Linked DNA regions of Homo sapiens: region 1 is linked to region 2. A link means that fine-mapping ties the variant in region 2 to the expression of a gene that starts in the linked region. Tissue or cell type: whole blood. Region 2 holds a variant in brackets; the other region holds the start of a gene. All regions are shown on one strand. Distances are from middle to middle. Region 1 holds the start of TNIP2 (TNFAIP3 interacting protein 2). Region 2 overlaps FAM193A (family with sequence similarity 193 member A).

Evidence for each region. PIP is the estimated chance that this variant, and not a neighbour inherited with it, causes the effect.
Region 1: TNIP2 starts here. The variant in region 2 is fine-mapped to the expression of TNIP2 in whole blood (TOPMed, PIP above 0.99).

The regions. Positions count from the first base shown.
Region 1 is chr4:2,749,693-2,765,603 of GRCh38, reverse strand. It overlaps TNIP2 (TNFAIP3 interacting protein 2), which reads left to right and starts at 9,268. Exons shown (of 6, transcript NM_024309.4): 1 at 9,268-9,590. The coding sequence starts at 9,315. It overlaps LOC102723763 (a long non-coding RNA gene), which reads right to left and starts at 3,872. Exons shown (of 3, transcript XR_001741552.2): 1 at 3,453-3,872; 2 at 1,755-1,864. RefSeq lists silencers at 1,084-1,633, 8,806-8,945, 9,126-9,645, 9,666-9,725 and enhancers at 1,824-2,392, 3,196-4,020.
Region 2 is chr4:2,725,906-2,740,672 of GRCh38, reverse strand. FAM193A (family with sequence similarity 193 member A) reads right to left here. Exons shown (of 21, transcript NM_001366318.2): 21 at 8,100-8,898. The coding sequence ends at 8,805. Among named protein-coding and RNA genes, the nearest start is that of TNIP2, 23 kb to the left of the region's middle. The variant C/T (reference allele first, on the strand shown) is at 4,350.

The DNA of each region.
Region 1 (15,911 bases), 24 kb before region 2:
GCAGATCACGAGGTCAGGAGATCGGGACCATCCTGGCTAACGTGCTGAAACCCCGTCTCTACTAAAAATACAAAAAATTAGCCGGGTGTAGTGGCGGGCGCCTGTAGTCCCAGCTACTCAGGAGGCTGAGGCAGGAGAATAGCGTGAACCCAGGAGGTGGAGCTTGCAGTGAGCCAAGATCACGCCACTGCACACTCTGGCCTGGGTGACAGAGCCAGACTCCGTCAAAAAAAAAAAAAAAATGCCATAAAGAATAAGGATCATTATACTTCACGTATGGATGGCAAAAGAGGGCCAAAAATAGATATGGAGATAATCCAGATAATCATTAAGTATATTTAAGAATAGTGTCAACTTTGACCATTGTAATTGGTATAAAAATATGACAGATTTCTGGATATTTATATCCAGATTATACAATATATACAGATTATATTTTATAGATACTAATGTTTGCCAACATTTCTAATATAGAGTTTGAAATGTTTCATCAAAACATTTAATACATGTAAAATATATACAAAGTTAAATACAGTAAAATCAAAATAATGTGGAAACTAGAATCTACTTGACATATCTCCCTAGCAAGATAGTGTTTTTTTCCAACTGTACTATATTATATGAAAGTCCTGTTGCTATGCATATTCTGTACATGCCATGGCTACGTCTACAAATATGAAACAGCTAGAATAAACGGAAAAATCTAAACACCAGAGATGTTTTTACGTGGTTGTATATGAAATTATCATGTTGACAAAACAGCCAGATAATAAAGTTTTCAAACTCAAGATTTTTGTCTTATATGTGTAACCTCTGTTCTATTTGTTACAAATTATAAGTCTATGTTACTTAAGTGTGTGAATGAATAAAGGAAACATCTAGTTTAAAAAAAAAAAAAAAAAGACCAGCCTGGCCAACATGGCAAAACCCCGTCACTGCTAAAAATACAAAAATTAGCCGGGCGTAGTGGCGTGCACTGTAATTCCAGCTACTCGGGAGGCTGAGGCAGGAGAATCGCTTGAACCCGGGAGACGGAGGTTGCAGTGAGCTGAGATTGCACCATTGCACTCCAGCCTGGGCAACAGAGCGAGACTCTGTCATTAACAAACCAACCAACTTCCCCCAGCGCTCAGGGGCCCACGCTGGGGAGCAAAGTGGGTCTCCTCTGAGACAAACGTGGAGACTGCTCGAGAGCGAGGGTGGAGAGGTGCTGGGGGCGCTGGTCGGGGCGCGGGTTGCGGGACGGGGAGGGGCTGGGCGGGGCGCTCGCGCTCGCCTTCTGCCTGAGGCCTGGTCTGGGGCCGCGGGTCCACACCGCCTCCTCGTGGACACTCGCCGCGAGGGCCCGCGCCGCCCGCGGAGGCTGGGCTTGAGCCCACGGGAAATGAATACGGATCCTATAAGATTCGAGCTTTCATCACTGGGTCACCAGACGGTTCTGGGCGCGTGTCCGGGGTTCATCCTGAATATGCGCTGATGGGGCCGCTGGGCACGGTGGCGGTGTGGCCGCAAGGCCCCGCGGGGCCGCGCCCACCCGGAGGGTCCCATACCAGCCCCTCCTCCGCGCCCAGGCCCTGGCTCTCCCCGCTGCACCCCCGCTGCCCGCAGCCCTGAGCGCGCCCCGCTTTCGCTGGCGGGACAGCAGCGTCCTGCCAGGGTCGCGGCGCCGCACAGCCCGAATACTTCCTCACGAAACTCCAGAGACCCCTTCTGTACCCGCTGTGTCCCCCGGCCTGCCAGTAGCTCATGGTTACCTCAGGGTCCCAGACGCTTAAATGGGTTCTGGAATTTTCTCTGCCTCCTCTTGCCTTCCGGGAGCAAATGCGATGGTGGCTGCCAGCTGCTCGCCTACGCTTTTCTGCTCCTAAGGGCTCGACAAGGCAAATGCATTGGCTCAGGTCAGGACAAAGAGCAGGATGATTTCCCAAGGTCCCGGGGCACTGGAGCTGCGGGGAAGGGCAGCGGCCCTGAGCCGGGACCCCTGTGTAGGGGAAGACCCCTGCCCCTCCTGGAGGCCGGCCGGCTCTTACGGGTTTTGGCCTAGCATCCCCATGTGTGTCCGGAATTGGTGGGTTCTTGATCTCACTGACTTCAGGAATGAAGCCGCGGACCCTCGCGGTGTTACAGTTCTTAAAGGCGGTGTGTCTGGAGTTTGTTCCTTCTGATGTTCGGACGTGTTCAGAGTTTCTTCCTTCTGGTGGGGTTCGTGGGCTCGGCGGACCCTGCACTCGGAGCAGCCAGCCGGCCCCACCGGCCACAGGCAGTGAGGGGCTTAGCACCTGGGCCAGCAGCTGCTGTGCTCAATTTCTCGCCGGGCCTTAGCTGCATTCCCGCGGGGCGGGGCTCGGAACCTGCAGCCCGCCATGCCTGAGCCTCCCCCGCTCCTCCGTGGGCTCCTGTGCAGCCCGAGCCTCCCTGACGAGCGCCGCCCCCGCTCCACGGCGCCTAGTCCCATCAACCACCCAAGGGCTGAGGAGTGCGGGTGCACGGTGCGGGACTGGCAGGCAGCTCCACATTCACTGGGTGAAGCCAGCTGGGCTCCTGAGTCTGGTGGGGACGTGGAGAACCTTTATGTCTAGCTAAGGGATTGTAAATTCACCAATCGGTACTCTGTATCTAGCTCAAGGTTCGTAAACACACCAATCAGCACCCTGTGTCTAGCTCAGGGTTTGTGAATGCACCAATCGACAATGTATCTAGCTAATCTGGCGGGGACGTGAAGAACCTTTGTGTCTAGCTCAGGGATTGTAAACACACCAATCAGCACCCTGTGAAAACAGACCACTCGGCTCTACCAATCAGCAGGATGTGGGTGGGGTCAGATAAGAGAATAAAAGAAGGCTGCCCGAGCCAGGAGCGGCAACCCGCTGGGGTACCCTTACCACATTGTGGAAGCTTTGTTCTTTTAGTCTTTGGGTCCACACCGTGTTTACGAGCTGTAACACTCATTTGTTGAAGGTCTGCAGCTTCACTCTTGAAGCCAGTGAGACCGCGAACCCACCGGGAGGAACGAACAACTCCAGACGCACCACCTTAAGAGTTGTGACACTCACCGCGAAGGTCCGCAGCTTCACTCCTGAGCCAGTGAGACCACGAACCCCACCAGAAGGAAAAAACTCCGAACACATCTGAACATCAGAAGGAACAAACTCCGGACACGCTGCCTTTAAGAGCTGTAACACTCATTGCCAGGGTCCACAGCTTCATTCTTGAAGTCAGTGAGACCAAGAACCCACCAATACCGGAAACACATGGGCTGGGCCAGGCAAGGGGGACGTTTGGGGCTCAGTCTGTCCTGGTCCCTTCTATGGCTACTCCAGTCCCTCCCCTGCTTGCTGCACTCTAGCCACCCCTGGACTCCTCCAAGGGTCTTGATCAGGCCCTGCACAGGTCCCTGGGGCTCTGCACTCGCCAAGCCCTCTGCCTAAGAGGTTCTTTGCCCAGATACTTACATTGTGTTCTCCTGGTCTTTATCCACGGGTCCCTGACTTTCCTGACCTCCCTGAAGGAAAGCCAGGAAGAGTGGAGAGGTCTGAGCTAGGAGCCTGTGGGAGTCAAAGAAGGTGCCCAGAGGAGGAGAGGAAGAGAAAGGGTGAGCCAGGTGGGGGGACTCTGCCCACCCCTCATACCCCGGCTGAGCCCTCCCATGCCTGCCTGCTCCCGTCAACCTCCCACCTCCCTGCTGAGTTGGAGCCGGGGGAGCCTGGAGGTGAGGATGTGCCAGGTAGGAGCCCCACAGGGGCCATGGGACACCAAGAGGTGATCCAGGAGGCATGCGTGGCAGCCCTGCCTCTGAAGTGTGGGGCCTAAGAGGGACCTGTTGGGCAGCTCAGGGCTTCTCCTTGGGGAGCTGACCCAGCCGTCTGTTCTGTGACCACCTTGACACCCACATCCAGTTCCTGCCGCAGTGCGCCTCTGTGAGCCCCACCCCCTGGCGGTGCTTGTGCAAACAATGGAAGGAATGAGTATTCCAGGCACTGAAGCAGCAGGCACAAAGTCCTGAGGCAGGAGAGAACTTGGTGTTTTTCATGGGAAGGAGTCAGTATTCCAGGCACTGAAGCAGCAGGTACAAAGTCCTGAGGCAGGAGAGAACTTGGTGTTTTTCATGGGAAGGAGTCAGTATTCCAGGCACTGAAGCAGCAGGTACAAAGTCCTGAGGCAGGAGAGAACTTGGTGTTTTTCATGGGCTCTTTCAGAATGACTGGTCTACAGTGAGCCGGAGAAAGGGGTGCAGATGGGTCTGAAAACAGCAGGGCCAGTGGACCACGCAGGCCTCAGCAGCTTCATCTGTGGGTGGGGCTCACGTTTACTCTACCCACCCATTCTGGGATTAGTAGCTACCCAGGGCTTTGCTGCTCTGGGGTGCTGGTGTCTCGCATTAGGCCTTCTCTTGCATGATCTCTGCTGATATCCACTGGCCATGCAGCCTCGAGCAGGTGGGGACAGACTTGGTCTACTCCAGGGCAGGTGCCCAAAGTCACACGGCAAAAGGGCGTGGCGGGAGGTGGTAAAAAGCTGGGAGCAACAGTCCATCTAGCACAAATACACATTTGCTGCAAAAAGCCCTGTTGTCAAGACAGTCCTCAGGTTTGACGATTCAGTAGAAGGACTCACAGTTATTCATTACAGCAAAAGGACACAGAAGAAAATCGGCAAAGGAAAAATAAGGCACATAGAGCGGGCCCGGCGGGGAGACCAGGTGCAAGTACCCACAGGATATCGCTCTCCCAACAGTACTGGGAGTGTTGCCAAACTGGGAAGCTCACCTGAGACTTTGTGTCCAGAGCTGTGGTTAGGGGTTGATCACATAGGCGGGGAGTGCCCATATGGCTGACCTGAGTTACTCGGTCTCCAGCTCCTTCAGAGCTCAAGCTCATGACCCAAGGCCTCAAGTTAGCTTAGACTAGCTGGTGTGGTCCAAGGCCCCCACATAAGCAAAGACACTCTTATCAGGTGGGATATTCCAAAAGGTCTAGGGCCAGTCCCTTTTTTGGAACATGCAGGGTTGAACACACTAGGCCTGCTGCACTAGCCCCATCCTGCACAAATCTAGATGAGTTTCAGAACACAGAAAGTGAATGCTGGCTGGGCGCGGTGGCTCACGCCTGTAATCCCAGCATTTTGGGAGGCCAAGGCAGGCAGATCACTTGAAGTCAGGAGTTTGATACCAGCCTGGCCAACATGGTGAAACCCCATCTCTACTAAAAATACAAAAATTAACCAGGCATGGTGGCACGTGCCTGTAATCCCAGCTACTCAGGAGGCTGAGGAAGGAGAATCACTTGAACCCAGGAGGCAGAGGTTGCAGCTGAGATCGCAGCATTGCACTCCAGCTTGAGTGACAGAGTGAAATGCTGTCTCGAAAGAAACAAAGAAAGAGAATGCGGAAAGAAAGAGGGAGGGAGGGAGGGAGGGAAGGAAAAGAAAGAAATTGCTCCCTGTATCAGCTCCTGCCCAACTCTAGGCCATACCCAGTTGTGAACTCACTCAGCCAACTCTCATGCCTGGCTCCTTCTCACCCTTTAGGTTGCAGAGCTGGACTGTTATCTTGTCTCTAATCACCCTCTTTAAAGTTAGGTTCCTCCTTTTTTTTTTTTTTTTTTTTTTTTTTGAGAGGGAGTCTCGCTGTGTCACCCAGGATGGAGTGCAATGGCGCTATCTTGGCTCACTGCAACCTCTGCCTCCCGGGTTCAAGCGATTCTCCTGCCTCAGCCTCCCGACTAGCTGGGGTTACAGGCACCCGCCACCATGCCTGGCTAATTTTTGTATTTTTAGTAGAGACAGGGTTTCACCATGTTGGCCAGAGTGGTCTCGAACTCCTGACCTCAGGAGTCCTGCCTGCCTTGGTCTCCCAAAGTGCTGGGATTACAGGTGTGAGCCACCGCACCCAGCCTGTTGTTTTCTTATACACATTTTCCCCTTCCTTTCCTTACACAAAATTTCCTTACGTTGCAATTATTCTTGTTTTGGAAAAGGATCTGTCTCCACTATTACAATGTCCACACATGAGTCCCCAGTGCCTGGCCCAGTACCTAAATTTGCATTGAAGGCAAGAGCATGCTGGGCACTTCCCATGTGACCTTACTGAATATTTACAACACCCTCTAAGACAAGTGTTCTTGGAGGTCTGGGATCCCTCATCCGCAATTCTGAAATCTAAAAAGCTCAGAAACCCAAAATAGTTTTCTTTCTTTCTTTTTTTTCTCAGAGACAGGGTCTCACTGTGTGGCCCAGGCTGGAGAGCAGTGGCACAATCACCATTTACTGCAGCCTCAAACCCCTGCCTCAAGCAATCCTATCTCAGCCTCCTGAGTATCTGGGACTACTGGCACACACCATCACACCCACCTAGTTTCTTTTAACTTTTTGTAGAGATGGGGTTTTGCTATGTTGCCCAGGCTGGGCTCCAACTTCTGGGCTCAAGAGATCCTCCTGCCTTGGCCTCCCTAAGTGCTGGGATTACAGGCATGAGCCACTGCACCTGGCCCCAAAATGTTTTTCTTAAAGGTGGTACAAAATCTGACTTCAACAGCTACAAGGCTTTTTCTGATCTTCATTCATCTCGCAGTCTGAATGGTCACCCTGTCTTTGCAGAAATTGTAATCTGTCTGGTTTTGTGGTGCTGTACCATGTCCCAGTGGGAGCACTAAGTCAGATTTTAGCTGTTCATTTTCCATTGCTGCAGAACAAACTATCCCAAATGTTAGTAGCTTAAAACAATAAGCATATATTATCTCATCCAGTTTCTGTGGTCAGGGACTCAGAGCAGTTTAGCTGGGCGGTCCTGGCCCGGGGTCTTCCATGGAGTCACAGTCAGTATGTCAGTGGGGGCTACTGTCTTCTGAAGGCTTGACTAGGGTCGGAGGATACAGTCCCAAAGTGGCTTCTTCACCACAGTGGGCAAGTGGGCGCCGGCTGCTGCCATGAAGCCTCAGTTCCTTGCCACATGGACCTCTTCACAGGGTTACTTGATGATAGGGTGGGTGGCTTCCCCCAGAGAGAATGCTCCGAAAGAGGGCAAGGCAGTAGCCGTGATGTCTTGTGGGAGCTAGCTGCAGAAGTCACACTCCATCATTTCTGCAGTACCCTCTTAGTTACCCAGGTCAGCCCTCTCCAGTGGATTGGAGGGGACTACACAGGAGCATGGATATTGGAAGGAGGGGATCCTCTTTGAAAGCTGGCTCCCCCAGTTATATGTACCTATTTGAAATCCAAAGATCCTCATTTCTAAAATACACATGGCGGCCTGGCGTGGTGGCTCACGCCTACAATCCCAGCACTTTGGGAGGCCGAGGCAGGCGGATCACTTGAGGCCGGGAGTTCGAGACCAGCCTGACCAATATGGTGAAACCCCGTCTCTACTAAAATACAAAAAATTAGCCAGGCGTGGTGGCGGGCGCCTGTAATCCCAGCTAATTGGGAGGCTGAGGTGGGAGAATCACTTGAACCTGGGAGGCGGAGGTTGCAATGAGCCAAAAATCACACCACTGCACTCCAGCCTGGGCGACAGATTGAGACTCCGTCTAAAATAAATCAATACGATACAGTACAGTACAATACAATACAATACACCACACCTGACCCCAAGGCTGTTGTTGGATGAGAGACTGTGGATTGTCACATGCACCTTTTACAGTTGAGGCAGAGGCTCAAGGTAGGTCACTGGAATGACGTGCCCCAGGCCACACATTAGCCTCTAACAGCTCTGGGTCCAGTTTTGTTTTTTCCACTCATGCCCCAGACAATCAATAGGCATTGTTTGTAACCATAGCCATGGGGACTGTAGGCTTGCTGTGCAGCAGCCACTGCACTGGACAAGCATTCCATGCACACTCCACCCTCTAGTCCCCACAACAGCCCAACCAGGTAGGGTGGGCACTCGCTCTGCCCTTCCTTCTGCTGAGAGGAAGCCCAGGCTCTGATGAGTAAGAAGGAGCCTTCCATAGCAAAGCCAGGCCTGTGTAGCCCAATGTCCGGGCCATAAGCACTTGGGTGGCTCTGGCTTTGCTTATAGGCTTGTCTGATTCTACAAGCTTGTGTTTTCCCAGGCTCAGCTCAGGCTTGGCTGTGGATCACATAAGGGAAGAAAGTCAAGAAGCTGCTCAGGGGCGGAGCCTGTGGGCAAGTGCACACACAGGGAAGACCCCTGCCCTATCCTGAGTAGGGAACCTTGGAAAGACCCCATGTGTGCTTGGGCATCATTGTGGGGAAGACTGGGCTGTGGAAAAACACTAGCGTTTGTCTGGGAATTTTGGGGAAGGAAAGGGATGGAAAAGCGAAAGGGTGGGAAGGGGCTGGTTTCCTGCTGCTTCTGCTATATAAGAACAGCATCTAGCAGGAAGGTTGTCCCGTGGGCCCATACTAGCCACCTTACAAAGCAGCGTCTGCAGTGGCTGACGCCTGTAATCCCAGCACTTTGGGAGGCTGAGGCCGGTGGATCTACCTGAGGTCAGGAGTTCAAGACCAGCCTGGCCAACATGGTGAAACACCATCTCTACTAATAATACCAAAAAATTAGCAGGGCATGGTGGCGGGCGCCTGTAATCCCAGCTACTCAGGAGGCTGAGGCAGGAGAATCGCTTGAAACTGGGAGGCGGAGGTTGTAGTGAGCCGAGATCGCGCCATTACACTCCAGCCTGGGCAACAGAGCGAAACTCCGTCTCAAAAAGAAGAAAAAAAAGGAAAGAAAAAAGAAAGCGGCGTGCGGGGCAGGGGGTTGGAGCTCTTTCTGGGCTCAGTGTCCCCAGGTGACGGAACACATGCCACGTGCTTGGTGCGCTGCGAGCTCAGCTCCTGGAGCTTCTGTTGCTGCTGTGGCCGCAAGGCCTGGACCCTCGCGGGGAGATTCAGACCCACACTTAGCTCCAGAGCTTGGGGGTTGTCGTTAAGCCCTTCCTTTCCATCAGAGGCTGATGAATCCCCAAACTCCTGGGCTGAGTTCGACTCTCCGACAACTCCTCAGAGGCGGATGTTTGGGGCCACTGGAATAAGCCCAGCACCAGCTGGGGTGTGGACAGCCTCGGGGGCCAGGCCAACTCTCCCGGACGGGTGCGGACGGCAGGGGCGGGGCCGGGCTGTAGGCGGTGGGAGGGGTGGGGCCGGGCGAGAAGGGGCTGGGCGGGCTGCCGTCGGGCGGGGCTGCGCGGGGAAGGGCGGGGCTGCGCGGGGGGCGGGGCTGCGTGGGGGAGGGCGGGGCCGGGCTGTTGTGGGTGGGCGGGGCGCACCGGGGAAAGTTCCGGGAAGGGCGGCAGCCGGCGGGGCCCGGGCGCGGAAGTTGCCGGCGGCCGCGCGGCCTCCCGGGCGGGCCTACAGCCATGTCCCGGGACCCGGGGTCGGGCGGCTGGGAGGAGGCCCCGCGCGCAGCTGCCGCGCTCTGCACCCTGTACCACGAGGCCGGACAGCGGCTGCGCCGCCTGCAGGACCAGCTCGCTGCCCGCGACGCCCTCATCGCTCGCCTCCGCGCCCGCCTGGCCGCGCTGGAGGGGGACGCCGCGCCGTCCCTAGTGGACGCGCTGCTGGAGCAGGTTGCGCGCTTCCGGGAGCAGCTGCGAAGGCAGGAGGGCGGCGCCGCCGAGGCCCAGATGCGCCAGGTACGAGGGCGGGTACCAGAGGAGCTGCGGGAGCGAGAGTGCGTGTGGCGGCCGCCGGGTCCTGGGTGGGTGAGCGAGCGGGCCCCGGGTCCTGAGGGGTTGAGGGGGTACTGGGTCCTGGGGTTGAGTTGGCCTCGGGTCCTGAGGGGTTGGGGGAGCACCAGGTCCTGGGAGTTGAGGGGGTGCCGGGTCCTGGGGGTGAGGGGGCCCCGGCTCCTGAGGGGTTGGGGGAGCATCAGGTCCTGGGGGTTGAGGGGGTGCCGGGTCCTGGGGTTGAGGGACACTAGGTCCTGGGGGTAAGGGGCCGTCGGGTCCTGGGGGTGATAGGGCAACAGCTTCTGGGGGGTGAGGGGACCCTGGGTCCTAGGGGAGAGAGGGGGACCAGGTCCTGAGTGGGATAAGGGGACACCACGGGCTGAGGTGTGCTGGGTCCTGGGGGGTTTGAGGCGTCACCAGGTGCTGGTGGAGGTGAGGGGGCTCTGGGTCCTGCGGGGTGAGGGTGCAAGGTTCTGAAGGGGATAAGCGAATGCTGGATCCTGGGGGGTTGGGAGGGCACTGGGTCCTGGGGGATGGTGAGGAGGCACTGGGTTCTGAGGAGGGGGGTTGGTGCAGTTCTTGGGTTCTGTGTGTGTGTGGTGTATGTTCAGGTGGGCTCTTAGGGGTATTTTGAGGTTCGTGTGTGGGAACACATTCCGAGGGGGGTGTGTGTATGCTGTGTGTATTCTGTGTGTATTGTGTAGTGTGTATGTTCCGGTTGGTTCTTAGGGGTGTTTTGAGGTGTGTGTGCGGGAGACACATTCTGAGGGGTGTGTATGGTGTGTGTGTGTACGCACACATGTGTGTCTTGGGTCCAAGGTCGTGTACTCATATTGTGTTCTAGAGTCCCTTCCAGCCCTCACCCATGCATGTGTCTTTCACTAGTGGCGCTTCAACTCTATGCTGGGAGCAATGGCAAATGCAGCCCGTGTCTGATAAAGGACACAAATCCTAGGCTGGGTGCAGTGGCTCACGCCTGTAATCCCAGTACTTTCGGAGGCAAGGCGGGCAGATTGCCTGAGCCCAGGAGTTCGAGACAAGGCTGAGCAACATGGTGAAACCCTGTCTACAAAAAGTGCAAAAAATTAGCCGGGCATGGTGGCACGTGCCCGTGCTCCCAGCCACTAGGGAGACTTAGGTGGGAGGATCACTTGAGCCTGGGAGGCAGAGGTTGCAGTGAGCCAAGATCGCACCACTGCACTCCAACCTGGGTGACAAAGTGAGACCTTGTCTGAAAAAATTAAATTAAAAATGGACACAAGGGTCCGGACGCGGTGGCTCATGCCTGTAATCCCAGCACTTTGGGAGGCCAAGGCGGCGGATCACGAGGTCAGGAGATTGAGACCATCCTGGCTAACATGGTGAAAACCCATCTCTACTAAAAATACAAAAAATTAGCTGGGCGTGGTGGCGGGCGCCTGTAGTCCCAGCTACTTGGGAGGCGGAGGCAGGAGAATGGCATGAACCCGGGCGGCGGAGCTTGCAGTGAGCCGAGATTGTGCCACTGCACTCCAGCCTGGGCGACAGAGCGAGACTCCGTCTCAAAAACAAACAAAAAAAGACGCAAATCCTGACTTTCTTCTCTTTGTCCTTGTCTATGATGTTTATGTCTGTTTTTTGATGATAAACTATAACACCACAACAGCAGTATAAGTAACAGTTTTTTTGTGCAATAGTATTTGCAAGCATCTGAAACATTCGGGTGAGCTCTGGCATCTATTATTCCATTTGATTCATGGCTATTATCCTAGTTTGCCCAGGAAAGAAACTAAGCCTGCAAAGGCAGTAGTCTGCGAAAGATAGTTTTTGTCTCCAGGGTTGGCCCCACAGCCTGATTTTAGAGAGAAAAAGAAACATGCCCTTTTTAAAAAAGAAAAAAAATTATAAAACAATTTTGAATATCTGAAAAATAAAGAATAAAATAGCCGCTGTAGTCCCACAGTGCAGGGATGACTAGTGTTAATCTCTTGGCATGCCTTCTTCCTGTTTTTCCTCTGTGTATAAGGTGTGTGTACACTTGGCATGGTTGTTTTCATGCTGTGTATACAGTTGTACTTAATATTAGGTTGTCAGTATCTACATCATTTAAAATACTTTCAGCAGCCAGTGTCTCCCCTACTCCACTCTCTCCCTCTTTCTGGAAGGTACATCCTGACTCACTAGAGCAGAAGGGAAGTTTAGAGGTCACCTGGTCTGCACCAACAGGTTTTAGAGTTGTGGATGCCAGGAGCCACAGATGAGTACAGACCAAGGACCCGGAAGGACACTCCGAAGTCATCTCCAGAATGTTGGTGGGACAGGATGCAGGGACCTCACAACCAGAGCAGTATACTTGCAGTCGGTGGCCATTGGTGTTCCGCTCACATGTGTTCCCTGGTGTCCTGTGTATCTGGCCACTCACCAAGCAGCTTATTGCAGCTTCCTGGTAGCCTCAGATAGAATTAGTTCTGTGTTCCCAGTATTACTGGCCCTGGTCCTGTCTTCCCAACATGTAAGCATGTAGGTTTTGTTTTGGGATTTTTATTTTTTTATTTTTTTGAGACAGGGTCTCACTCTGTTACCCAGGCTGGAGTGCAGTGGCACAAACATGGCTCACTGTGGCCTCAACCTCCTGGGCTTACGTGATCCTCCTGCCTCAGCCTCCCATATAGCTGGGACCACAGGAGTGTGCCATCACACCTGGCTAATTTTATTTTTTTTTTGTAGAGACGGGATCTTGCTGTGTCGCCCAGGCTGGTCTAGAACTCCTTTCTTCAAGTGATCCTCCTGCCTTGGCCTCCCAAAGTGCTAGGATTACAGGCATGAGCCACCACGCCCAGCATGGGGGGATTTTTAATTATTTAAGGAACATTTTAATGATTTAGTTTTGTTTGTTTGTTTTTTTATTTTTATTTTTATTTTTTTAGAGACAGGGTCTTGGTCTGTGACACTGCCACCTAGGCTGGAATGCCTTGGGGCCATCATAGCTCACTGTAACCTTGAACTCCTGGGCTCAACCAGCCCTCCCATCACAGCCTCCCGAGTGTCTAGGACTATAGGCGAAGAGCCTACCACAAGGACTATGAGCCACCACACCTGGCTAACTTCTTAAGTTTTTGTAGAGAAGGGGTCGCATGATGTTGCCCAAGCTGGTCTCAAACTCCTGGCCTCCAGGGATCCTCCTGTCTCGGCCTCTCAAAGTGCTGGTATTACAGGCGTGAGCCACTGTGCTGGCCTTATCTGGTATTTTATGCAATTACATATTTATTGCTCATCCCAACGTTCAATCTGAGGTCGGTCATGGAACCTGTGGAAGAATGGAGAGGTTTGTCACCTCCTGCAGGCCCTGGGTTCACTGAGGTGGCAGTGCAGAGTTAAAGACACAGCAGGAAGCAAGCCGTTGCTAGGTTGCTCTCATCTATGAGAGCCCGTTAGGAGCAGGAACCCTGGACCAGTAGGGACTGAGGGCTCCCAGAGAGAGTGCTGAGGCTCAGAATGTGGAGGAGCTGACCAGTGCGTCTGTGATCAAGCTGCGGTCAGTGTGTGATGGGGCAAGATCAGGCCAGAGAATTGTGGTCCTCAGTGCAGCCACAGCTGGACTTGAGACCTTACCTCATCTGTAACACAAGGCCTGAGTGGATAACTTTACAAAGCCCCTCCAGTTAATACTTTCTGGAATAATGGCACCAATTCATTGTGCAACCTGGTCCTGCCCAACCCCATCCTGTCACCATTCTCGGGACCAGCTTCATAGGCTTTGCCTGGTCCTGGCGTATCAGCCCCCTTTCCCTTCCGGCTTAGCTTAGCTTTGCTTTGCTTGTTTTCTTGGCTCTTTCTTTTCTTTTCTCTTCTCTTCTTTTCTTTCTTTCCTTCCTTGTTCCTTTTTTTTTTTTTTTAAACTGAGTCTTGCTCTGTCGCCAGGCTGGAGTGCAGTGGCGGGATCTTGGCTCAGTGCAACCTCCACCTCCCGGGTTCAAGCGATTCTCCTGCCTCAGCCTCCTGGGTAGCTGGGACTACAGGCGCCCACCAGCACGCCTGGCTAATTTTTTGTATCTTTAGTAGAGGCGGGGTTTCACCATGTTGGCCAGGCTGGTCTTGAACTCCTGACCTCGTGATCCACCCACCTCAGCCTCCCAAAGTGCTGGGATTGCAGGCATGAGCCACCGCCCCGGGCCACCTTCCTTGTTCCTTTCTTTCTTCCTTTCTCCTCCCCTCCCCTCCCCTCTTTTTGACAGGGTCACTCTGTTGCCCAGGCTGGAGTGCAGTAGCATGATCATAGCTCACTGCAGCCTTGACCTCCTGGGCTTAAGTGATCCTCCTGTCTCAGCCTCCCGAGTAGCTGGGACTACAAACGCCCACCACCATGCCTGGCTAATGTTTTTTGTATTTTTTGTAGAGACAAGGTCTCGCCATGTTGCCCAGGCTAGTCCCAACCCTTGGGCTCAAGTGATCCTCCCACCTCGGCCTCCCAAAGTGCTGGGATTACAGGCTTTGGGAGAATACACTTCTGTTGTTTAAGACACCAAGTTTGTGATACTTTGTTGCCGCAGCGCTAAAAGCCAAGAGGCCACTGTGCCTCTTAAGGCCAATCCACAAGACTATTAATAGAGCTGTTTACACTTTTGTGTTCTGAGCGTGGAGCTATGGAGTTGTGGGTCCCGGCGACAGGCTTTCCTGAGAGATGTCAGCCCAGTTGCTGACTAGTCTGTGTGTTGTGCCTGTGTGTGTAGACCCACAACTCCAGCTCGTACCTTGTTTTCTGACCACAGTGGTCGAGGTGCTGTTGTGTCCTAAGAACTGTTACTAACTGGACAAGGCACTCAGACAGATAAACCAGCACAAAGCTCTGCAACTTCAGAGCCAGTGACAAATGCCAGAAGCCCGGGGGCTGGAGGGGTCCTGGGGCCCTCATGCTGCCGAGGGGAGGATGAGTGGGGCAGCCCTTTGCAGGGCTGGCCTGCCCCCACGGGTTGAGCGTAGAGCCTGCGTCCTGATCTGTCTCTGTATGGCCCAGTCTTATTCCCATTTACTGGGCATCTGTGTGGGGCTGGGCTCAGTGTTGAGTACTAGGGTGTGGAGGCAAGAGAGAGCCACGCCCTCAGGATCTACGAGCTGTGGACATGCTGCCCTCCTGTTTGTGGAGCTGTTTGTTTCTCCTACTGTCAGCATTTGACCAACGCAGGAAGGAGGCTCCGAAATCAGATTTTACCTGGGCACGGTGACCCCTGCTGAGGCAGGAGGAGGATTGCTTGAGGCCAGGAGTTCAAGACCAGCCTAGGCAACATAGCCACACCCTGTCTTTATCAAAAAAAAAAAAAACCAGAAGTCAGGTTTTGCTCAAAGTCCTTTATCCCTGAAGAGGGTCTCACTGTCACCCAGGCTAGAGTGCAGTGGCACCGTCACAGCACACTGCAGCCTTGACCTCGAGCCCATGGTCCCAGCTATTTGGGAGGTTGAGACGGGAGGAACACTTGGACCCAGGAGTTCAAGGCTTCGGTGAGCTGTGATTATACCACTGTATTGCAGCCTCGGTGTCAGGGCGAGACCCTGTCTCTAAAATAATAAAATAATAATAATAATAATAATAATAATAATAATAATCAGGGTTCTCGCAGTAATAGGGCTTAGTATTTTGTTCCATTGTGATGAGAACATTCTAGGTTCCCGGTCTCTGTCCCTTCTTACCTCAAGTACTAGACACAGAGGCTGGACCCTTCTCCCGCCACTTCTGGGGGAAGCTTGGGCTCCTCCGTGACTTTTCTGAAACTGTTTCTTCACTTGTGGGATGGACTAGTTGAGCCTGCTTCACCTCCTTCATGTAATGTACTGTTTATTTTGGAGGATTCTTTGAAAACGGAAAAGTACAAATTTAAGGCCAGATATTAAAAAATTGTCAGGTCAGATGTGGTGGCTCGTGCCTATAATCCCAGCACTTTGGGAGGCTGAGGCAGGCGGATCACTCAAGTCCAGGACCAGACTGGGCAAAGTGGTGAAACCTTGTCTCTGCAAAAAATACAGAAATTAGCCAGGTACGGTGGCATGCACTTGTAATCCAACTACTTAGGGTGCTGAGGCAAGAGGATCACTTGAGTCTGGGAGGTGGAGGCTACAGTGAACCATGGTGGCACCACTGTACTCCAGCCTGGGTGACAGGGCGAGACCCTATCTCAAAATAAAATTGTCATTTTAAGAACCTTTTTAAATTCTTTAAGAAGTAATTGGGGTTGGGTGTGTTAATTTCCTAGAGCTGCTGTAACAAAGTAACACAAACTGGGGGGCTTCAAGCAACAGAAATTTAATCTTTCA
Region 2 (14,767 bases):
CTCCCAGCGTGCTGGGATTACAGGCATGAGCCACCACACCCGGCCAAGGTGACTGACGGTACTTAAATGCTGATGTGAAGTCAATAAATCTTATGTCACACGATAAAGGAGAAAGGAAATGAAGAGATTTTCTTAGTACTAGCGTATACATGCACAAACGTTTTTTATCAAAAGGAGGAAATACTCACAGCAATTACAGTCCTGGTTCCTGCAGCTGGTCATGTGGTCATAGCCGTTATTGATGCCTACCTTCTTCTACTACCCATTCTGTATTCCCTTTGCCTTCAGCAAGCACCTCAGCAGATGGTGGTTTTTTTCCTGGTGGAGTGACCCGAACCTTCATTCCTGATTTGTAGTCCTGCCTGGATTGGGCTGTTGTAGTTTCCCATTGACCTTAATCACAGGGCATTAGATAATACTAAGAGATGTCCTAATGGATCTCCTGTATTCCATGCATACTCTTCCTTACCTCTGTTGTGGAGTAAGAGACTAATTCCATCTTTTTTTTTTTTTTGAGATGGAGTGTCGCTCTGTCGCCCAGGCTGGAGTGCAGTGGTGCAATCTCGGCTCTCTGCAGGCTCCGCCTCACGGGTTCACACCATTCTCCTGCCTCAGCCTCCCGAGTAGCTGGGACTACAGGCACTTGCCACCATGCCCAGCTAATGTTTTGTATTTTGTGTAGTAGAGACGGGGTTTCACCGTGTTAGCCAGGATGGTCTCAATCTCCTGACCTCATGATCCGCCCGCCTTGGCCTCCCAAAATGCTGGGATTACAGGCGTGAGCCACCACACCCGGCCGAGACTGATTCCATCTTGATAGTCCAGATCAATCACTCCAGCCAACACCATAACTCCTCCTTAGCCTGTTGACTTAAAGGTAGGAGGAGCCCAGAGTGTCCAGGTGGCAATCTTAACTTCTAGCTTAATGGAATAGTTGTGTCTCCTGGTGGCAGCGTTCCTCCCTCTGGAACTAAGACCTCTAGGCCAGCAGAACATAATGTCATGGGAACAGGGAGCAAACATTTTGCTAGTGGATCACTAGGGGTGATGGCGAGTGGTGCCACTTCCACTTGAGTGCCTTGATTCCTGGACCCGTGCATCCTGGTTAAGGGAGAAACAATATCATATCTTGGATGCTGATTCAGAGCATACATGGCCTTCTGGAGAACTTGGTCCCAGCCCTGCAAAGTATTGTCACCTAGTTGGTGTTGTAATTGTGACTTCAGAAGGCCATTCCACCGTTCTATCAATCCAGCTGCTTCAGGATGATGGGGAACGTGGTAAGATCAGTGAATTCCATGAGCATGAGCCCACTGCCACACTTCTTTAGCTGTAAAGTGAGTGCCTTGCTCAGAGGCAATGCTGTGTGGAACACCCTGATGGTGGATGAGGCATTCCTTGAGTCCATGGATGGTAGTCTTGGCAGAAGCACTGCGTGCAAGATAGGCAAACCCACATCAGGAGTAAGTGTCTATTCCGGTGAGGACAAACCTCTGCCCTTTCCATGATGGAAGAGGTCCAATATAATCAACCTGCCACCAGGTAGCTGGCTGATCACCCTGAAGAATGGTGCCATATTGAGGCTCAGTGTTAGTCTCTGCTGCTGCCAAATTGGGCACTCAGCAGTGGCTGTAGACAAGTCAGCCTTGGCTAGTGGAGGTCCATGTTGCTGAATCTCCATGTGTAATCTCCATCCCTGCCACCATGGCCACTCTGTTCATGGGCCCATTGGGCGATGGCAGGTGGCTGGGGAAAGAGGCTGAGTGGTGTCCACAGAACAGGTCATCCTACCCACTTGATTATTAAAATTCTCCTCTGTTGAGGTCATCCGCTGGTGAGCACTCACAGGGGATACAAATATCTTCAGTTTTTGACCACTTGGAGAGGTCCATCCACATACCTCTTCCTCAAATTTGTCACCAATTTTCCAATAATGCTTCTTTCAAGCCCCTGACCATTGTCTTCCAAGTCCCATCCAGGCAAACCATTGTCTACAGCCCATGAATCAGTACATAATCACACACCTGGCCATTTCTCCTCCCATGCAAAGTGCACAACCAGGTGCACCGCTCCAACTTCTGCCCACTGGGAAGATTTCCCTTCACTGCTGTCCTTCAGGCATGTCCTAAAAAGAGGCTGTATTGCTGCAGCTGTCCACTTTTGGGTGGTGCCTTCATATCGTGCAGAAGCATCTGTGAGCCAGGCCCTAGTCTTCTCTTCCTCTGTCCACTGATCATAGGGAACTCCTCATGAGGCCATTGGTGCAGGCTGGGGGAGAGGAGGCAGGGTGGCAGGAGTGGAGACCATGGGCATTTGAGCTACTTCTTCATGTAACTTGCTTGTGCCTTCAGGACCTGCTTGAGCTCAATCACATATGTGCCACTTCTCTTTGATGATGGAATGCTGCTGTGCACGACCTACTTTATGGTGATGGGTCAGAAAGCACCCAGTTTATGATGGGCAGTTCAGGTCATATGGTGACTTGATGACCCATAGTCAAACATTCAGTTTCCACCAAAGCCCAGTAACAGGCCAAGAGCTGTCTCTCAAAAGGAGAGTAGTTAGCTGCAGAAGATGGCAGGGCCATCTTCTCCAGATCCTACAGGCCTCCGCTGTGATTCACCTATGGGGTGAAAATCCTACAGGCCTCCACTGTGATTCACCTATGGGGGCCTGCCAAAGGCTCCAAACAGCATCCCTATCTGCTACTGACGCCTCAAGCACCATTGGATCGCTGGGTCATATGGCCCAAGTGGCAGAGCAGCTTGCACAGCAGCCTGGACCTGTTGCAGAGCCTTCTCCTGTTCTGGACCCCACTCAAAACTGGCAGCCTTTTAGGTCACTAGATAAATGGGCTGGAGTAACACATCTAAGTGAGGAATGTGTTGCCTCCAAAATCCAAATAGACCCACTAAGCATTGTGGATCTTCTTGGTTGTAGGAGGGACCAAATGAGGCGACTTATCCTTCACCTTGGAAGGAATATCTTGACAGGCCCCACACCACGGGAGCCCTAGAAAGTTTACTGAGATAGAAGTTCCCTGAAAAAAAAATTTTTTTTTTTTTTTGAGACAGAGTCTCACTCTGTTGCCCAGTCTGGAGTGCAGTGGCATGATCTCGGCTCACTGCAAGCTCCGCCCCCCGGGTTCACGCCATTCTCCTGCCTCAGCCTCCCGAGTAGCTGGGACTACAGGCGCCTGCCACCATGCAGGGCTTTTTTTTTTTTTTTTTTTTTTTTTTGGTATCTTTAGTAGAGACGGGGTTTCACCATGTTAGCCAGGATGGTCTCAATCTCCTGACCTCATGATCCACCTGCCTCAGCCTCCCAAAGTGCAGGGATTACAGGCTTGAGCCACCATGCCCAGCTGAAATTTTTTTTTTTTTTTGAGACAGAGTCTTGCTCTGTTGCCCAAGCTGGAGTGCAGTGGCAATCTCAGCTCACTGCAACCTCCGCCTCCGGGGCTCAAGTGATTATCCTGCCTCAGCCTCCGAAGTAGCTGGGACTACAGGTGCGCACCACAACACCCAACTAATTTTTGTATTTTTAGTAGACATGGGGTTTCACTATGTTGGCCAGGCTGGTCTTGAACTCCTGACCTCGTGATCCGCCTGCCTGGGCCTAACTGCTTTGGCTAGAACCTCTAGCACAATGTTGAATAGAAACTGCAAAACAGATATCTTTGCCTTGTTCCTGATCTTAGGGGGAAAGCATGCGGTCTTTCACAACATTAAGGATGATATTAACAGTGAATTTTTTGTAGATGTCATTCTTCAGGTTGAGGAAGTTCTCTTCTATTCACACTTGGTGAAATGTCTTTATTATGCAAAAGTGTTGGATTTTGTCAAATGCTTTTTTTGCATCTATTGAGATGATCATGCAATTAAAATTTCGATTAATATGATTACATTAAGTATGTGTTGGATATTGAACCACCCTTACATTCCTGGGATTCCACTTGATCACGGTGTATATTTCTTTTCTTATATTGCTGGATTTGGTTTTCTAGTATTTTGTTGAGGAATTTTGCATCAATATTCATGAGATAATAGTCTGTAGTTTTCTTGTGATGTCTTTGTCTAGTTTTGGTATCAAGGTAATACTGGCCTCACAGAATTAGTTGGGAAGTGTTCCTTCTTCTATTTCTGAAAGTTTGAAAAATTGGTTTTAATTCTTCTCTAACTGTATGGTAAAATGCAGCAGTGAAGACTTCTAGGCTTGAGCTTTTGTGGGTACTTTTCCCTGTTTTAAATTACTATTTCAACATCTTCACTCATTATAGGTCTATTCAGATTGTCTATTTCTTCTGGAGTCAGTTCTTGTAGCTTCTTCCTGTCTAGAAATTTGTCCAT[C/T]TCATCTGCTATGGTTTATATGTTCATATGTTAGAACTTAGTGCCCAAGGTGATAGTATTAAGAGGTGGGGCCTTCTGGGAAGTGTTCAAATCATGAGTGCTCCATCATCATGAAAGGGATTACAGCTTTTATAAAAGAGGTTGAAGGGATCACCTTAATTCCCCTTTTTGCCCTTCTACCATATGAAGATACAGCAACAAGGTGCCACTTTGGAAGCAGAGAGTGAGCCCTTACCAGACACTGAATCTGTTGGTGCACTTTGCTCTTGAACTTCACAGCTTCCAGAACTGTGAGAAATAAACTTCTATTATTTATAAATTACTCAGTCTGTGATATTTGGTCATAGCTGCATGAATGGACTAAGATATCATCTAAATTACCAAATTTGCTGGCATATAATTGTTCTAGTATTCCTTTAAAATCCTTTTTCTGTGTGGCCAGTTCTGATTCTAGTAATTTGAATCCTTCCCTGGTCAATCTTGCTACAGATGTCTATTTTGTTTACCTTTTTAAAACTTTTGGTTTTGTTGATTTTCTCCATTATTTTTGCATCCTCTATTTCATTAATTTCTGATCTAATTTTTATGATTTTATTCCTTCTGCTTACTTTAGGCCTAGTTTGCTCTTTTTCCAGTGTCTTAAGGTGACAAGTTAGTTTATTGATTTGAGTGAGATCTTTCTTGTTTCTTAATATAAACATTTTCAACTTCTGGGATACATGTTACTATTTTTCAATTTGGGAGGTTTTCGACTATTATTTCTTTGAATATTTTTTTTGCTCTTTGCTCTCCTTTTGATATTCCCATTATACATAGGCTGGTATGCTTAATGGTGTCCCACATTTTTCTGAGACTCTTTATTTTCATTATTTTTTTCTCTATGTTCTTTGGCTGGCATAATCTCCATCAGCCTATCTTCAAATCCACTTATTTTTCCTTCTGCTAATTTTAAAATTTAGGCTGGGTGCAGTGGCTCATGCCTGTAATCTCAGCACTTTGGGAGGCCAAGGTGGGCAGCTCACCTGAGGTCAGGAGTTTGAGACCAGCCTGACCAACACAGTGAAACACCGTCTCAACAAAAAATACAAAAATTAGCCAGGCATGGTGGTGTGTAACTATAGTCCCAGCTACTGCGGAGGCTGAGACAGGAGAATCACTTGAACCCAGGAGTTGGAGGTTGCAGTGAGCCAAAATGGTGCCACTGCACTCCAGCCTGGGTGACAGAGCAAGACTCCATCTGTCTCTCTCTGTGTGTGTGTATATATATGTGTGTGTGTATATATATGTGTGTGTATATATATACACACGTAACTTTTCAGATTCCATAATTTCCATTTGGTTCCTTTAAAATAATTTCTATATTCATTTGATGCAGCCTTATTATATCATTGTTTTCTTTCTACTACCCACTAGTATTCCAGCTATGATGTTGCTCCTCAGGGTGTGTAGCTTTGCGTATGCCCACAGTCACCCTGGGATGACAGTCATTTTGGTAGAGTTCTCTTCCTCTTTCCCTGACCACATTCATTAAACCACTAATTGCCAATTCTATTGTTTTCAACAATGCCCTGGGGCACCATGCTCTACAAACAAATCCAATCAAATTCTGACTCCTTTGAAGAGAGAGTTTCTGGGAACACTGTGTGATATTCCTTCTGACCCCTGGATGCCTTCTCCCAGCTCTTTTCTTCAGTTACCTCCTGCAAACTATCTGGCCTGTAGCTGAGCCTGCATCTTGTCTCTCTTCCCAGGGTTTCATGGCCTCCACTGTTTCTGAGTGCCTTCAGGCTTGAACCTCTTCATTCTTTGTTGCAAACAAAGTCAGTTTCTTTGGGAAGAGATTAGGAGCTATCTGTTTTACTGCCTGTTTCTCTACCCAGGCAAAATCTCTGAGCAGGGCTCAGAGCTGAGGGTGCAGAAAACAGTAAGCTTCTCAATACAACTGTTCACTGTTAAAGTTTCCTTTCTAACTATTGTTATTGTTTCATTTCATGACTATTACAGGTTGAGTATGCCTAACCCGAAAGGTTCCAAAATTCAAATCCTTTTGAGTGTTAAGATGATGCTCCAAGGAAATGCTCATTGGAGCATTTTGGATTTCAGATTTTTGGATTAGAAATGCTCAATTGGTAAGCATGATGTAAATACTCCAAATCCAAAAAAGTCTGAAACTGGACACACTTCTGGTACTGAGGATGCCAGATAAGGGATAAGGGATACTCACCCTGTGCTACTGTGTGAGTCAAAAATGTGAGGCTCCCCTATGGCGGCCCCACCCTCCCCCACAGGGAAGTGATGTCATCAGGAACCCCAGGGGCTCCCATCAAGTCAGGGACCCTGGAGCTGGATGTCCTATAAGCACCCTGGGATGCTGGAAGGATGAGTGGTTTCCAGGGAAATAGAGGAAGATCCTTCCTGGCAAGGGCATGGCCAGGACAATGGCTGGGAGCCTGAGGGCCAAAGCTAGCAGGTGCAGGTCAGGGGCCAGAGCGGGCAGAGCTGTGAAGCCGCAGGCAGGGTTGCCATGGAGGTGATGGGAGTGCCCAGAACTGGGCATGTGCGGTGGGCGTCTGAGGGTCTCTAGGTCCCAGCATGATGCTTAGTGTGTCGGGGCACCCAGAGTTCCCCATCACCACTCAGGGCTGTGCAGTTCCCCTCAGCAACAGGCATGGTTCAGCACAGTGTTAAAGGCTGTCCATGGGGAGAGCAGGGCAGGTACTGGGGGCCTGGGCAGGCAGCTTCCCCATAGGGCGAGGCCCGGGCCTGGGCCTTTCCCCAGCCACCACCGCAGCCAGAAGAGGCAGCGGCTGGAGTCCCGGGGGCCTGCACTGGGGTTTCAAGGACACTACTGTTGCCGTGGTCATGGCCTGACCTGCTTCACTCTCTGCCCTATCATCCCACGAACAAAGGAACGTTCTCTTCCTCACACCTGGAAAAAAAAACAAGTGAGGAAAGTTCGTCGTGCTGCACCTCCCCTGGTTGGTGACCCTTTTCCAGCTTTCGTGCAATCTCCAGAGTTCTAGGACCTGCTGTCCCCACCTCATTCTCCTGCAAACCGGTGCCTGGGTGGGGGTGCCCTGGGCCTTGTCTCCCCTGACCTGCCTCGAAGCCTCCTCACCCTCCTCTGCCTTCCTGGTTCCACAGCTCGGGCCCCCATCCCATCTACTCACCCCTGCAGGGCCCTCACACAGGCTCTGTCCATGAACAGCAGTCCCCAGTTCCAGACCTCTCACCTGGGTGGCCGGTGGACATCCCAGACTCACCATCCAGAACTGGTCTCCAGTCCCACCTCCAGGCACACAGCGCAGGTCTTCACCTCTTTCTCCTACCTGCATCCTGTCCACCAGGAAATCCTGTGGCCTCATCGTCCGAATACCTCCAGAAGCTGGCTCTCCCTACCCTCTCCCCAACCAGGCCCTGCCCTATTCACCTTCACTCAGAGTGAAGTCATACTCTGATAGGGCACACAGAGACAGGCTGAACATGAGGCTGGGAGAAGTGGGAGCTACTGAGTGTTCTAGGTAGTAAGAAGTAACCAGGATGCAGCTCCTTGGGAGCTTTCTGTCTCCTGCTGCCTGCTCTGCCTGGCACACAGAGGATGGTGGGGGCACCAGGATGGGTGAGCCGTTGCCTGGAGAGACCTGGGACCTGCTCCGGGGTGGTGCCCTGGCTCCCCATGGCGGACACATCACCTACACGCCCTCTCCCGCTATCCCCCCACTCCCCCAGCAGAAAGAAGCAGCCGAGGTCTCCTGCTGTACTAATGTATTCCATCTTTCAAAAAGAAAGACATGATTTTAATATTACTTAACAATATGTTAAAAAAGTAGCCAGGCAGGCCTCCGTGTTAATACAGTCGTACACTCTATAACAGACTTGATGGTGTGAGTACTGGGTGGGCTTGTTTTTAACTTTCTCGTTCTGCAAGGGATCTTACACAAGCTGGCTACAAGTCAGGGGGATCAAACACAAACAGCGCAACGTGTACACTCGGAGACAGTAGATTGTGGAGAACAAAGGAGGCCTGCCCCGCCCAGCCCGCCTAGGGTGAGACGCAGGGGCACAGGAGAGCTGAGTGACGGCCGATACCCCGGTGAGGACACATGACAGGACAGGGCGCAATGCAGAGGCAACGGAGCCACGTGGATGATGCAAACTCCTATCTGGCCACGGCCCAGGCCTCCGAGGCCGCGGTGGTGGGAGGACTTGGCGGGAACTACTGTTCCAATCCGACAGCACAGAGCTACAATCGAAGGAGTCTCACGCACAGACTACACGCACACGAGCTAACGGCGTGGGCCGAGCATCAACTTCTCGGTCTGGGGTTTCAGGCAGCACCAGCTCCGCACAGCCCTTGGCAAGCACCACGGCTCTGGGGCGCCAGCGAGGGGCGTGGCTCTTGGGGTGGTGCAGCCTGGCCTGCCTCTCGCGTGTCCCTCTCCAGGGAGTCCTCATTCAGTGGGCAGCAAAGGTGGCTTTTTTCAAGCTAAAATTGGACCAGTTGATAGACAGTCTTTGTCGGGTCTGTCTAGCAGAATCCAAGCAGAACCTGCAAAGACAAAAAGCCAAACAGTCACTGAAGGAAACAGCCCACAACCAAGCTGGTGCTTGGCAAAGCCCATCACACTCCTGTTCTTGCCAGAAACTCACTGCGGGGTCAGGGGTTTAGATTCTCGGTGAGGGGCACAGTGTCAAGGGTCCCCTCCAGGCCCTGCTACAGGCTGCACTTGAGAAGGGGAAAGGACTCGGGAGGAGGAATGGGTGGGCGGAAGGAGTCCTGAGAAAGAAAAGAAACGTTTAATCTGAGAGCTGTGAGCGCCCTTAAATTATCAGGCCCAGGCAGGGTGTGGTGGCTCATACCTGTAATCCCAGCACTTTGGGAGGCTGAGGAGGGCAAATCACTTCAACTTAGGAGTTCGAGACCAGCCTGGGCAACATGGTGAAATCCTTTTTTTTTTGAGACAGGGTCTCACTCTCTTGCCCAGGCTGGAGTTCAGTGGCAGTTTCGGCTCACTGCAACCTCCACCTCCAAGGTTCAAGCAATTCTCTGCCTCAGCCTCCCAAGTAGCTAGGACTACAGGCATGTACCACCACACCGGTTTTTTTTTTTTTTTTTTTTTTTTTTTTGAGAAGGAGTTTCGCTCTTGTCATCCAGGCTAGAGTGCAATGGCACAATCTCAGCTCACTGAAGCCTCCGCCTCCCACGTTGAAGTGATTCTCCTGCCTCAGCCTCCCAAGTAGCTGGGATTACAGGTGCCCACCACCACGTCCAGCTGATTTTTGTATTTTTAGTAGAAAGAGGGTTTCACCATGTTGACCAGGCTGATCTGTACTCCTGACCTAAAGTGATCCGCCTGCCTCGGCCTCCCAAAGTGCTGGGATTACAGGCGTGAGCCACTGTGCCTGGCCACACCTAGCTAATTTTTAATTTTTTTCAAATGGAGTCTCTGTCACCCAGGCTGGAGTGCAGTGGCACGATCTTGGCTCACTGCAACCTCTGCCTCCCAGGTTCAAGCGATTCTCCTGCCTCAGCTTCCCAAATAGTTAGGACTACAGGTGCATACCACAACACCCAGCTAATTTTTGTATTTTTTGTAGCTTCTTCCCTGGCCAAGAAGCTTTTTTTTTTTTCTTGACACGGAGTCTTGCTCTGTCGCCCAGGCTGGAGTGCAGTGGCGTGATCTCGGTTCACTGCAACCTTCGCCTCCCAGGTTCATGCCATTCTCCTGCCTCAGCCTCCCAAGTAGCTGGGACTACAGGCACCTATCACCACGCCCAGCTAATTTCTTCTATTTTTAGTAGAGATGGGGTTTCACCATGTTAGCCAGGATGCTCTCAATATCCTGACCTTGTGATCTGCCCTCCTCGGCCTCGCAAAATGCTGGGATTACAGTCGTGAGCCACCGCGCCCGGCCTCCAAGAAGCTTTTATAGAAAGCAGAGGCCTCGAAAAAATTGTATACACATATATCCTAAATATCAGCTTCTAATTAAGTCAACTTTCAACTCTAAAGCTGTTTAAAAGGATTCCTGTGTCAGGTCTTAGCCAGGCAAATAGTCAACATTCTTGTTTCTTGGTTTTTCCTTCCTGAAACTGACACCAAAGAGGAGATCTGAAGCTGGCCATGGTGGCTCATGCCTGTTTTCCTACTACTTTGGGAGGCTGAGGTTGGAGAATCACTTGAACCCAGGCGTTTGAGACCAGCCCGTGCAACACAGTGAGACTCCATCTTTACAAAAAGTAAAAAGTTAGCCAGGAGTGGCAGTACACATATGTGCCTATAGTCCCAGCTGCTCGGGGCTGAGGTGGGAGGATCCTTGAGCCTGGGAGGTCAAGGCTGCAGTGAGCTGTGATGGTGCCCCCGCACTCCAGCCTGGGTGACAAAGGTGAGACCCGTCTCAAAAATAATAAAGCCTTGCTGTGGTGGCTCATGCCTATAATCCCAGCACTTTGGGAGGCTGAGGTGCGTGGATCACTTGAGCTTACAAGTTCAAGGCCAGCCTGGGCAACATGGTAAAACCTCATCTCTACAAAAAAACACAAAAATTAGCCAGGTGTGGTGGCGCACACCTGTGGTCCTAGCTACTCGGGAGGCTGTGGTGGGAGCATGGCTTCAGCCTGGTGGGCAGAGGCTGAGCGAGCCTGTTGCCGGTGGCAGGTACCTGAGTTGCCGGTGGCGAATCCGTATGTGTCTGCAGCAGCCTCAATTATTGCCTCCTCAGACGAAAGAATCTGACCAAAGGCCATAAGGCAGAAGAAGAGACTGAGGCAAGTTTTAGAACAGGAGTGGAAGTTCATTACAAAGCTCTAGAGCAGAAACAAAAGGAAGGAAAGTGCACTTGGAAGAGGCCAAGTGGGCAACTCGAGAGGCAAGTGCCCCATCCGGCCTCTGATGTAGGGTTCTAGGTGTTGGCATACTTCAGGGCCTCGCGTCCCTTCTCCCAATTCCTCCCTTGGGGTGGGCTGCCTGCACACACACTGGCCTGCTAGCACTTGGGAGGGAGCATGCGTAGTGTGTTTACTGGAGCATGCGCATGCTCACCTGAGGCGATCTTCCCTTCCCGGTGTAAAGTACCTGGAAGGTCACACACCAGTTAAACTCCACCATTCTGTGCCTTAGTGCACATGCTTGAGCCCACTTGCCCAATTCCTGAGATCTTATCGGGAAGCTGCTGATCACCAGCTTCAGTTTCCCTGGTGCTGGCTATGACCAATTATTATTTTAGAGAGGCAGTGTGACAACTGCCTAACCATCACCTGATGGTCACCTGACATCCCTGGTGGATGGAGGAGGCCCTCCCCTGCCCTGCTCACACCTGACTAGCTACCCACTGTAACAAACTGAGAATGCGCCACTGCACTACGGCCTGGACGGACAGAACCAGACTTTGTGCTCCCACCAAAAAAAAAAAAAAAAAAAAAAAAAAGTTTTGGAGGTGGAACATATTTGCTTATTAGAGGTCTAGGGTAACCACTATTTAAAGCTGTTTGTCTTTGAATGTTTTAATAAACTGTTTACTTTCTGAGTATATGGTTTCATTTAGCTTAGGAGAAGGCTAAACAAAACAACAAAAAACCCCTATCATATTCTAAATATAAACCAGAAATTTATAATCATTCAAGGGCATACCTGCACAAACGACTCAAAGCCAACACACACAGACATGCATGAGACCAAAATTAAGAATCCCTTTATGGCTTTAACCAAGGTCTCTGAAGAGGGAACAAAATTTCAGCCCCAGGCCCCTCTCAAGAACAGCTTAAAGAAAGTCTTGCTAGCTGCGAATAGGGTGCAAGCCACATCTGTCAGGCCATATTTTCTAAGGTCTCAGCTTCTCAGCTGACAGTCTATGCACAAATGCCAGGTGGAAGATTTAAAGAGACAGGAAAATAGAAAAACGAAACTGCCCATGGGACTAGTGCCAAAAATGAGGGAAGGTAAACCTGTGGGGTTGGGCTGGGGAGGTAGTTCATGCTTGTAATCCTAGTACTTTGGAAGACTGAGGTGGAAAGATACTCAGAGGCCAGCCTGGGCAACATAAAGAGATGCCTTCTCTACCAAAAAAAAAAAAAAAAAAAAAAAAATTGGGCCGGGTGTGGCAGCTCACGCCTGTAATCCCAGCACTTTGGGAGGCCGAGGTAAGGTGGGCAGATCACCCGAGGTCGGGAGTTCGAGACCAGCCTGACCAACATGGAGAAACCCTGCCTCTACTAAAAATACAAAATTAGCCAGGCGTGGTGACGCATGCCTGTAATCCCAGCTACCCAGGATGCTGAGGCAGGAGCATCGCTTGAACCCGGCAGGCGGAGGTTGCGGTGAGCCAAGATCGTGCCTGGGCAACTAGAGCAAAACTCCATCTCAAAAAAAAAATAAATAAAATAATTTTTTTTTTTTTAATTAGCTAGGCATGGTGGCGCATCTGTAGTCCCAGCAATGAACTGTGATCAAGCCACTTCACTTCGGCCTGAACTGAGACTTCATTTTTAGAAAGTCTTTTGGGGTTTAAAGTCTGCTCACAGATTCCTCTGCCCCACTGGCACCATCTGTGGGCTGCGGAGTAGCTGTCTTCAGTAAAAAAGGATTTATGTCCTACCTTTAGGCAAACAAAGGAGAGGTAGAGAGAGCCCCTGCACTCTGTCTTCAGCTCAACAATACCCAGTATTTGAGAGAGCAATATTTTAGTTTCCTTTAGTAGAAAAGATGACAAATGGGTATCCCAAATGGTCAAGAGTCATAAATAATTTCAAGTAAATTCAAATTAATTCCTATTAGTGGTTATCCTAAGCTAAAGGTATCCATTGAGGAAAGAAATCTGTAGTGGCTCTAAGGAACTGTAACTTTGTTTCAAATCCAGTCTCAGCGGGAATGCTGCTAATTCCCTGGATGACAGAGTGAGAGACTGTGTCTCAAAAAATAATAAATAAATAAGTAAGTAAGATTTACATCCTTAAGTGACTGAGAGCACTCTCTAAAACAAACTTCCAAATCTCTTGAGGGCCAGGGAGAGAACTCACCTTCATGCACCAGTTTAAAACTAACAGCAATTGGTCACAATTTTTTTTTTTTTGAGACGGAGTCTTGCTGTTGCCAGGCTGGAGTGCAGTGACGCGATCTCGGCTCATTGCAACCTCCGCCTCCGGGGTTCAAGCGATTCTCCTGCCTCAGCCTCCAGAGTAGCTAGGACTACAGGCGAGCACCACCACGCCCAGCTAATTTTTGTACTTTTAGTAGAAACGGGGTTTCACCATGTTGGCCAGAATGGTCTCTATCTCTTGACCTCGTGATCCGCCCGCTTTGGCCTCCCAAAGTAGTGGGATTACAGGCAGGAGCCACTGCGCCCGGCTGGTCACAATTTTTTTTTTTTTTTTTTTTGGGACGGAGTTTTGCTCTTGTTGCCCAGGCTGGAGTGTAATGGCACGATCTGGGCTCACTACAACCTCCTCTTCCTGGGTTCAAGAGATTCTCCTGCCTCAGACTCCAGAGTAGCTGGGACTACAGATGTGCACCACCACACCCGGCTTTTTTTTTTTTTTTTTTTTTTTTTGGTATTTTTAGTAAAGGTGGGGTTTCACCATGTCGGCCAGGATGGTCTCAAACCCCTGACCCTCAAGTGATCCACCCGCCTCGGCTTCCCAAAGTATTGGGATTACAGGCATGAGCCACTGTACCTGGCCTTGGTCACAAATTTAAGGAGGAAAAAAGGTCTGAATTACAAACAGTAGGAAGCAGCAATTTTAAAAGCATGCTGTGTAATTTAGGCCAAAAAAAAAGAAGCCACAGGAGGAACGGAGCCAAACTGCCAGTACCGGGACCCGGATCCCATGCTGTGAAGCAAGGCCAGAGAAGGCAGTTTCCCTTTTTTTTCCCTGAAACCCAAATCTCTTGCCTCTTTAGAAAGGGAAGGGGGTTAGAAAGAACAACTCAAGTTTTTAAGAAAAAAAGAACAAATTAGGAGAGGAGGTGATTACAAAAGTTGTTTATCAGGGCCAGGCTTGGTGGCTCACGCCTCTAATCCCAACGTTTGGAAGGCCGAGGCAGATAGATCACTTGAATCCAGGAGTTTGAGACCACCCTGGACAACATAATGAGAACTGTCTCTACTAAACATTTTAAAAATTAGCTGAGGCTGGGCGTGGTGGCTCACGCCTGTAATCCCAGTACTTTGGGAGGCTGAGATGGGCGGATCACGAGGTCGGGAGATCGAGACCATCCTGGCTAACACGGTGAAACCCCGTCTCTACTAAAAATACAAAAAAAATTGCCAGGCGTGGTGGCGGGCGCCTGTAGTCGCAGCTACTCAGGAGCCTGAGGCAGGAGAATGGCGTGAACTTGGGAGGCGGAGCTTGCAGTGAGCCGAAATCGCGCCACTGCACTCCAGCCTGGGCGCCAGAGCGAGACTCCATCTCAAAAAATAATA